2 separate regions of the Homo sapiens genome follow, and region 2 is reported to be linked to region 1. The links are microRNA targets in miRTarBase. Many come from high-throughput screens and were not tested one by one. Region 1 holds a microRNA gene; the other region holds the end of a gene's coding sequence.

Region 1 (4,392 bases):
CCAAAGAACTTAACTACTTAACAGAGTTGTTAATAACTAGGCTATATATAAACAGAATCTAAATTAATTTAGAAAGGAACTCTCCCAGTTACTTCAAAAAATCAGATAAATGCTTAATAAGTGCCCCTTGTCCCCAGGTCCAATTCATCTTAGGTCTGGTGGCAGAACTGATAGCTACATGCTTTCCTGTGTTTTCCCAAAGCACTGAGGAAGAAGTGGTGCAAATGTGAGGTTCTTGGGGAACCCCCATCTATATAAACAAAGCTTATATCCATGGATTGAGATGGCCACTGTCTCAAAGGCAGGTCTATGTTTTGAACCGATACCCAATTCAGAGCCATGAGAGAGACCACAGGATGAATGTGAGGCAAGCCTTATTCTGCTAGGCTTCAGGGAAAACGGAATCCAGGAACTCTCTCGCCCCTGGTTGCTCTCATTCTCCATCATTTATTCTCGCTGCAGTCTGATTTTCTCTAGGTGGTGTGAAGCAGTGTCCTGGCGACTGCTGGGGCCCTCTTTTTAATTTCATCTTTCGATCTCCATTCTTCCATTCTATGAGCACAGAACCTCTGATTTTAGTTGGGTGTGTGTACACCCAGAATGAAGACTTTATTCCCTAGCCTCCCATGCAGCTAAATTTGACCATATAACTAAGTTATAGTCAATGTGAAGTATAACGGGAAGAGATGTGTGCAATTCTAAGTCGTACCCTTAAAGGAAAAGGGAATGTACCCCCCATTCCTCCTTTCCCCCTTCCCACTAGCTGAGATGAAAATATGTTGGAGAGCCAACTTGGACCATGCATATGAGGGTAGGATTCTAAGGATGGGGAGCCACAAGTAGAAGAAGGATGAGTCCCTGGGCAGCCTGTGAAGTCCTACCTGCACTGAACCACCTGCCTCTGAACTGTTACATGAGAGAGACAGCAACTTCAGCCTCTTTTCAGCCACAGTTAATTTGGTTCTGTTACAGCCTGTATTCTTACTACATTAAAATTTCCAAAGCAGTCACGAGCTCACTGAGATTTTAGGAAAGGGGACATAGATGAGGGTTGGGGTGTCAAAAAACTGTGAGGTCATGTTTAAAACACTACAGGAGCTGGTATGGTTTAGTTCTGTGTCCCCACCCAAATCTTATCTTGAATTGTAATCCCTATAATCCTGAGGTCAAGGGAGGGACCCGGTGGGAGGTGATTGGATGGTGGGGGTGGTTTCCCCCATGCTGTTCTCATGGTAGTGAGTGCATTCTCATGAGAAATGATGGTTTTATAGGTGTTTGACAGTTCCTCTTCACATACTCTCTCTCATGCCTGCTGCTGTGTAAGATATGCCTGCTTCCCCTTCTGCCATGATTGTAAGTTTCCTGAGGATTCCCAGCCATGCAGAACTGTGAGTCAATTAAACCTCTTTCCTCCATAAATTACCCAGTCTCAGGAATTTTTTTTTTTTTTTTTTTTTTTTGAGACTGGTTCTCACTCTGTCACCCAGGCTGGAATGCAGAGGTGCAATCTTGGCTCACTACAACCTCCGCCTCCTGGTTTAAGCAATTCTTATGCCTCAGCCTCTCAAGTGGCTGGGATTACAAGCCTGTGCCACCATGCCTGGCTAATTTTTTTGTATTTTTAGTAGAAACTGGGTTTCACCATGTTGGCCAGGCTGGTCTTGAACGCCTGGCCTCAAGTGATCTGCCCGCCTCAGCTTCCCAAAGTGCTGGGATTACAGGCATGAGCCACCGTGCCCAGCCTCAGGTATTCTTTATAGCAGTGTGAGAATCGACTAATGCAGAAGCACACACACACACAGATCAGAGAAAGATTAGTCACATGTGCCTCCTTATGTCCTAGACCATGTCACAGTGTTCTCTTGCGTTACAGTGCCTCTGCAGGTACTGCTCCTTCTGCCTCCCCTTACCCCAACACATACACACAATTGGCCTTCTAACCTTGGCTAAACCTGGCTAAACCTGGCTAACTCAGGGAAATATCTGACCACATTCCAGACTAAGTGAGGCATCTCTGTTATATTAACACGCCCCTCACAGCATGTATTACTGTCTCATAATATTACAGATTTGAAACTTTACATTTATTCCGTATCTTTTTTTACTTAAACAGGTTATTTGATTATCTCTCCCACATCATACGTAGATTCTGTGAGGTCAGGGACTAAGTCTGACTCCTTCACCGCTGTATCCTCAGCACCTAGCACAGTACATGACATACAGAAGGTGCTTGTCAAAGTCAAAATAAAATATGGAGATGAATCTCTAAATGTAATGTTTTATTTGGGGAAGCGAGAATCGCAACTCGGAGCATACACACAGATCTGGTGGTCTTTGGTATGTCCGAAAAACAAAGAGAAGGCTGGGCGTTTTATTAGAAAGGGAAATGCATTGGCACTAGTAAAGTTTCAGGGAGCTGGCAAGCTCTGATTGGTGACTGACAGTGGTAAGTAAAACTAGTATTAGGTTATGGCGGGTTGTTTCAGCAGTTACTAGCTGAATCTGGTCTCAGGGGGACAGCAGGCCATTTCCGCAGCAGTTAGTGGAAATATTGGTTCTTGGAGCAGGCGCTGCGTGCCTCCAGTGCTTTTCCCCTGGCCCCTGGATTCTGATTCCGTTGGGCATAAGAAGAGTGACCCAATTCGTATTATCAACTTTCACATGCTCAATAAGAATGTATGCATGTAAGCTATGGGTGAGTGAATGAATTTGGACAACTCCTCCTCCAGTGAAGAAAAGCAGAACTTACAACCTTGAGCCACTTATAAAATACTAACATACTACCACCACCTGTGCGCTGTCTTCTCAGAACCATGCTCTTCCCAGGATGAGTAACTGTGTGCTTCTAAGTGGAAACCTGATGACAGTCACCCAGTCAGTGACTGGCGGACCCCCTATTATTACTCCCATTCTTTGGGCAGGGAGATGCTTAACCGGCTGGAAGCACAGAGGAAGGGCAGGAGAACGAAGCAAGTCACCCGGCAAACACAGCTGTATCCGGAGGCCTCCGGGCTTCCGGAGGTCTCGGGGCTTCTGGGCTTCCGGTCCCTCTTCCGGAGGCCTGGGTTTCCGGGACGTCGCGCGCCGTGTGGGGCGCGCACGCAGGGCTGGGCGTGAGGGGGCGTGCGCGTGCGCAGGCGACGCGCCGAGGTACTAGGCAGAGCCGTGGAACCGCCGCCAGGTCGCTGTTGGTCCACGCCGCCCGTCGCGCCGCCCGCCCGCTCAGCGTCCGCCGCCGCCATGGGAGTGCAGGTGGAAACCATCTCCCCAGGAGACGGTGAGTAGTGGCGCGCGGCGGCTCGGAGTACCTCTGCCGCCGCGCGCATCGGCTCAGCATGCCCGTCTCTGTCTCCTCAGGGCGCACCTTCCCCAAGCGCGGCCAGACCTGCGTGGTGCACTACACCGGTGAGTCGGGGGCCCAGCGGGGAGGGGGCCCGGGCCGCAGTCCGCAGCCCGGGTGCGGCTGGCCGTCGAGGCCTGGGGGCCCGGGGCCTGGGGTCCGGGGCGTGGCGGCGGCGAGGTCCGCATGGCCCGAGGCTGAGGCCTGGGCGGTGGCTCAGGGGCAGCCTGGGGCTTGCGGAACCCGGGCGGGTCTGAATCGGCGGCTGTGAGCGTCGGCTGCGGGCTAGGTGTTATCTGACCCGTCAGAAGCATTTCTGCACCTTAGATGCTGCCCTTATGCCCGCTGCACAGATGAGGAAACTGAGGCTTGGCGAGGCGAAGTCACTTTCCCAAGGTCTCACTTTCCCAAGGTCACACTTTCAGGAATGGGCAGAGCTCTGGCCAGGGACCATTAGGAAGGATTTGTACCATTTCTGTGCCCCTGCCCCCACTTCCATCCCTCCCTTCACTGGAGATGAGGACGAGGTAATTCCGAGTCTGCAGAGCTGCTGCTTCCTCCGGGGAACTCGGAATTCGCCCCTTTGCCTAGGGTGGGGAAACATCCCACTTCCTAAGTCATTGCTTTGGCCCTTCCTGGCCTTGGGGGAAGTAGAGCTGCACGGCCTTCTTCCGTCTTTTTACTTTTGAGCCACTTACAAATCCAAGGCTCAGTGACAGCGCTGGCTCAGGCTGACCGAAAGCTGCACGTGTAATTTAGTCCCCCAGCTCTTCTAGAAGTAGAGACTTTTCTCGTCCTCATTTTAAAGATAAGCATCTGGAGGCTAATACATAGTGATAATACAAGCCAAAGGAAATTTTAGACACCTCCCCCTCCCCAGCCAGAATTCAGACATCAGAGTCGTGTGCCTTGGGGCTGTCTTACTCCTTCTCCTTACAAGCTTGTCCTGGTTTGTATGGGGGCGGGGGAGGGGGAGAGCTGAGTTGGCGGAGACTCAGTGGCTGTGGGTCCCACAAGGGTGGCAGTGATTGGTGTAGCCACAGTTGTTGATA
Region 2 (4,392 bases), not on the chromosome of region 1:
CAGGCTGGAGTGCAGTGGTGCAATCTTGGCTCACTTCAACCTCCGCCTCCCGGTTCAAGCAATTCTCCTGCCTCAGCTTCCCGAGTAGCTGGGAATACAGGTGCATGCCACCACACTCGGGTAATTTTTGTATTTTTCATCGAGATGGGGTTTTGTCATGTTGGCCAGGCTGGCCTCAGGTGATCTGCCCACCTCAGCCTCCCAAAGTGCTGGTATTACAGGCGTGAGCACCACACTGGCCAAGCATTTCTCTTATCAGACATTCACTTTATGATCAAGCTTAACTTTTTCTCAGTTGAAAGTTACTTAATTCCAGCCCCATATGGATGTGTATACAAATTATACTCAAACTTTGATTAGAATGCAAAGATTTTATATCCATGTATCCTTTTGACAACTTGTTTTCAACAATGGCAAATAAATAAAAGAATGCAGAAGATTTCACAGTCTGCGGAAGGCTGTGACTTAAAGGGAAAATTGTTCTAATTTATTGTTCGCTTTCAGACAATGGAAGAATACATGAACAAGCCTACATTTTAACTGGAAATCTACTTGAAGACTCCAGCACTACATGTTATGAAGCTGTAAATAAGCAACGCCTCCCATCCGGTTTTTTGATGGAGCCTCAGGCACCATGCCAAAAATAATTTAAAGGGATTCTTTGTTAACTAACAAAGTTAAAGTTGTTTAACATATTTATAATTACTATGTGTCTGTATTATTAAAAAAAATTATGTGTCTGTGTTATACTGTATAGGTACTTGTAGCTCTAAATGTTTAAAGTAACTACCACCTAACCCAACAGACAATATTTGTAATGTATTAACTCCATGTTATGTTTTTAAGCTGGTTTAGATACATTAGCTGCAATTTTTTTTGCATTTGACACAATATTGTAATAATCCATGATTTTGAATGTAAAGTATATATGATGTCATTAATACTTTTTCTAAATGTTTAGTTTTCTAAATTGTATAATAATTCAAAATTATGTTAATAGTGCAGAGTTTATATGTAATGCTAGACATTTTTCATACACTTAATAGTACTGTAACTGCAATTCACATACAAAATGTCTGATTTTAATGTGCTGAATTCATTTATTTTTTTTAGAATTGGGATTATGAAAATAACCAAAGAGTATAGAACTTAATAAGTGTTTTTGATGCCTTAGAAGCTGCTATCTTGACTGAGGTTTTAATTTATCTTTTAATTGAATATAAGGGACATTCCAATAAGGTTTTCTATGAACTATATATTTATTAAGGTTTATAGAGACCTAGAGATACAGCATCTATGACTTCCTTTATTATTCTAAAATAGTATGATAAGAATTAATAGCAATAATAATTATTGCTACTATTTTTTAAAATTCACGTTCCAAGCACTCTTAGATGCTGGAAATTTCATTTCAAATATGTTTTAATGTATCTCTAATGCATTTGAAGACTTATTACATGGCTTACTTAGAGCATTTAAGATTATCACAGCCTATATGGTAGATTCCTTTCCTTCTTTTTTCTTTTCTTACCCTTTCCTCCCCAAAGAAAAGATTTGCTGCTGACCATTATTACTGTAAGTATATCACATTTGTGCTTCCTGGAATGAAAATTCTGTATAACCAGGTCCTAACAGTGATCAGACATATTACAGGGAAATAGCTTGTAGGCCGGGAGTGGTGGCTTACACCTGTAATCCCAGCACTTTGGGAGGCCGAGGCAGGTGGATCACTTGAGGTCAGGAGTTCGAGAGCAGCCTGGCCAATATGATGAAACCCCATCTCTACTAAAAATACAAAAATTAGGCCGGGTACAGTGGCTCATGCCTATAATTCCAGCACTTTGGGAGGCAGAGGTGGGCGGATCACAAGGTCAAGAGATCAAGACCATCCTCGCCAACAAGGTGAAACCCCACCTCTATTAAAAATACAAAAATTAGCCGGGAGTGGTGGTGCGTGCCTGTAGTCCCAGCTACTTGGGAGGCTGAGGCAGGAGAATCGCTTGAACCTGGGAGGCAGAAGTTGCAGTGAGCTGAGATTGTGCCACTGCACTCCAGCCTGGGCGACAGAGCGAGACTTCGTCTCAAACAAACAAAAAAATTAGCCGGGCATGGTGGCAGGTGCCTGTAATCCCAGCTACTCAGGGGGCTGAGGCAGGGGAATGGCTTGAACCCAGGAGGCAGAGGTTGCAGTGAGCCAAGGTCATACCAGTGCACTCCAGGCGGGTGACAGAGCAAGACTGCGTCTCAAGAAAAAAAAAAAAAAAAAGAAAAAGTAAAAGCTTGTAGTATTCTGTCTTGCTGCCTGCTATTTGATGTTTTACCTGTGCATTTTCAATGTTAGCTTTGAGGTCTGGTATCATTCATATTAGAGTGGTTTGGGACCTCCAGTGATTTCCTAGAAGAGTGTGTTTCCTGTTGGATTCTTTAGGAGATCCCATCTGGTAGATTTTTAGAGAACTCGATGGAAAAATGTTCTCTTTAGTTCATCTCAGCAGACATATTTAGGGAAAACAGCAAAGCAAGCAGGAGAACAAAGGGAAAAATTCACCAATTCCTCAATATAACCATTGTTCAAAGGAAATAACTCAGATTAGCATATAAAATAATCATTAGGCTTTTACTATCCAATATTTCTTCAGGTTACCATGTAATTACAATTATGGCATCAGCTTGAAGTTTATCATGTATGATTGACCACTGTGTTTACTTTAGCTAACCTTCAGTTTTGTGGTTTAACTTTTTAATGTGTTAGAATTTTTTCTTTCTTTTTTTCTTTCTTTCTTTCTTTTCTTTCTTTCTTTCTTTTCCTTCCTTTCTTCCTTCCTTCTTCTCTCTCTCTCCTTCCCTCCCTTCCTTCCTTCCCTTCCTCCCTCCCTCCTTTCTTTCTTTCTTTTTCTCTTTTCTTTTCTTTTCTTTCTTTTCTTTCCTCGCTTCTTGTCACCCAGGCCAGAGTGCAATGGTGTGATCTCAGGTCACTGCAGCCTCCGTCTCCTGGGTTCAAACGATTCTCCTGCCTCAGCCTCCCGAGTAGCTGGGATTATAGGCATGCGCCACCACGCCTGGCTAATTTTGTATTTTTGGTAGAGTTGGGATTTCTCCATGTTGGTCAGGCTGGTCTTGAACGCCGACCTCAGGTGATCCGCCCGCCTTGGCCTTCCAAAGTGCTGGAATTACAGGCATGAGCCGCTGCACCCGGCCAAATTCTTTATTTTTCAATACAATTTTGTAAAGATGGACCTCATGTAAATCCATCATAGTTTTTCCGGTTCTTTTGAAATTTGTCACCATATTTGGATAAAGGTATCTCTTGAACCTCATTCAAATATACTACACATGTTCTGGATAATTCCATATTAGACACTTTAGTTATGGACAGGGCTTCTCAGACTTCAATCAGTGTCACACATAGAAAGTAAATATATCTCTTCTGGGCAAGGTGGCTCACGCCTGTAATCCCAGCACTTTGGGAGGTCAAGGCGGCAGATCACCTGAGGTCAGGAGTTCGAGACCAGCCTGGCCAACATGGTGAAACCCTGTCTCTACTAAAAATTCAAAAATTAGCCAAGTGTGGTGGCACATGCTTGTAGTGCCAGCTACTCAGGAGGCTGAGGCAGGAGAATCGCTTGAACCCGGGAGGCAGAGGTTGCAGTGAGCTGAGATCACGCCACTGTACTCCAGCCCGGGTGACAGAGTGAGACCCTGTCTCAAAAAAAAAAAAAAAAAAATGAAAGTAAGTAAACATATCTATATGGCACAGTGGGGTAAATTTGAGGGATTTTAGGGACATCTTCCATGGGCCTAGGCTAAAATAGTCATTGTGTTTTCTTTATATTATATAATTACTATAAAACTACCAAGAGAAAGACAGTAAATGTTAAATTTCTATAAAACTTCCAAAATAAAATGTTTTAACATGTTTTAATGAGGAACTTGGTGTGTTTTCATGAATACACTTTTTTTTAAGTCAGATTTTATGTTTGAAATTGCTACTCATAATTCCTGGTGATGTCTCTTTAATATGACCTCTTTATTTTCTTGGTACCTACCAACAAGAAGCAACTTCAAAAGTAAGTGGTAGCAAATGGGAGAAGAGTATTTATTGCTTTTGCTCCTACTGACTTTTCTCATCATTCACCTACATTTTGGTAATCTGATCTCTTTACACGTAATTAATGATGTGATCATTTTTTAAATCTAGTGACAGCTCCTTTTCTTTCATTAACAAATGTAAAGTTGACAATTTTTGTGATAAAGCAAATGGATTTTTGATTCAAACTTTTTTTTCCATATCAAACCTCCTAAAATAATGATAAAGCTTTAGTCAAATGTATTGTTCTAATCTTTTTTGAGACAGAGTCTCACTCTGTTGCCCAGGCTGGAGTACAGTGGTGT

Evidence for each region. Region 1 holds the annotated microRNA hsa-miR-6869-5p (GUGAGUAGUGGCGCGCGGCGGC, at 3,278-3,299, shown strand). A microRNA usually pairs through its seed, bases 2 to 8, with sites in the 3' UTR of a target mRNA and lowers its output. Matches are read on the target gene's strand: a 7mer-m8 pairs with bases 2 to 8, a 7mer-A1 pairs with bases 2 to 7 and ends in A, and an 8mer does both.
Region 2: miRTarBase lists AP1S3 as a target of hsa-miR-6869-5p. Seed matches in the 3' UTR shown: 7mer-m8 at 2,135-2,141 and 7mer-m8 at 3,594-3,600.

The regions. Positions count from the first base shown.
Region 1 is chr20:1,391,847-1,396,238 of GRCh38, reverse strand. MIR6869 (microRNA 6869) reads left to right here and starts at 3,278; the gene lies at 3,278-3,339. It overlaps FKBP1A (FKBP prolyl isomerase 1A), which reads left to right and starts at 3,185. Exons shown (of 5, transcript NM_000801.5): 1 at 3,185-3,277; 2 at 3,358-3,405. The coding sequence starts at 3,241. FKBP1A-SDCBP2 (FKBP1A-SDCBP2 readthrough (NMD candidate)) reads left to right here and starts at 3,067. Exons shown (of 10, transcript NR_037661.1): 1 at 3,067-3,277; 2 at 3,358-3,405. RefSeq lists silencers at 3,129-3,178, 3,379-3,478, 3,489-3,558 and an enhancer at 3,293-3,793.
Region 2 is chr2:223,754,863-223,759,254 of GRCh38, reverse strand. AP1S3 (adaptor related protein complex 1 subunit sigma 3) reads left to right here. Exons shown (of 5, transcript NM_001039569.2): 5 at 505-3,929. The coding sequence ends at 540. Among named protein-coding and RNA genes, the nearest start is that of AP1S3, 81 kb to the left of the region's middle.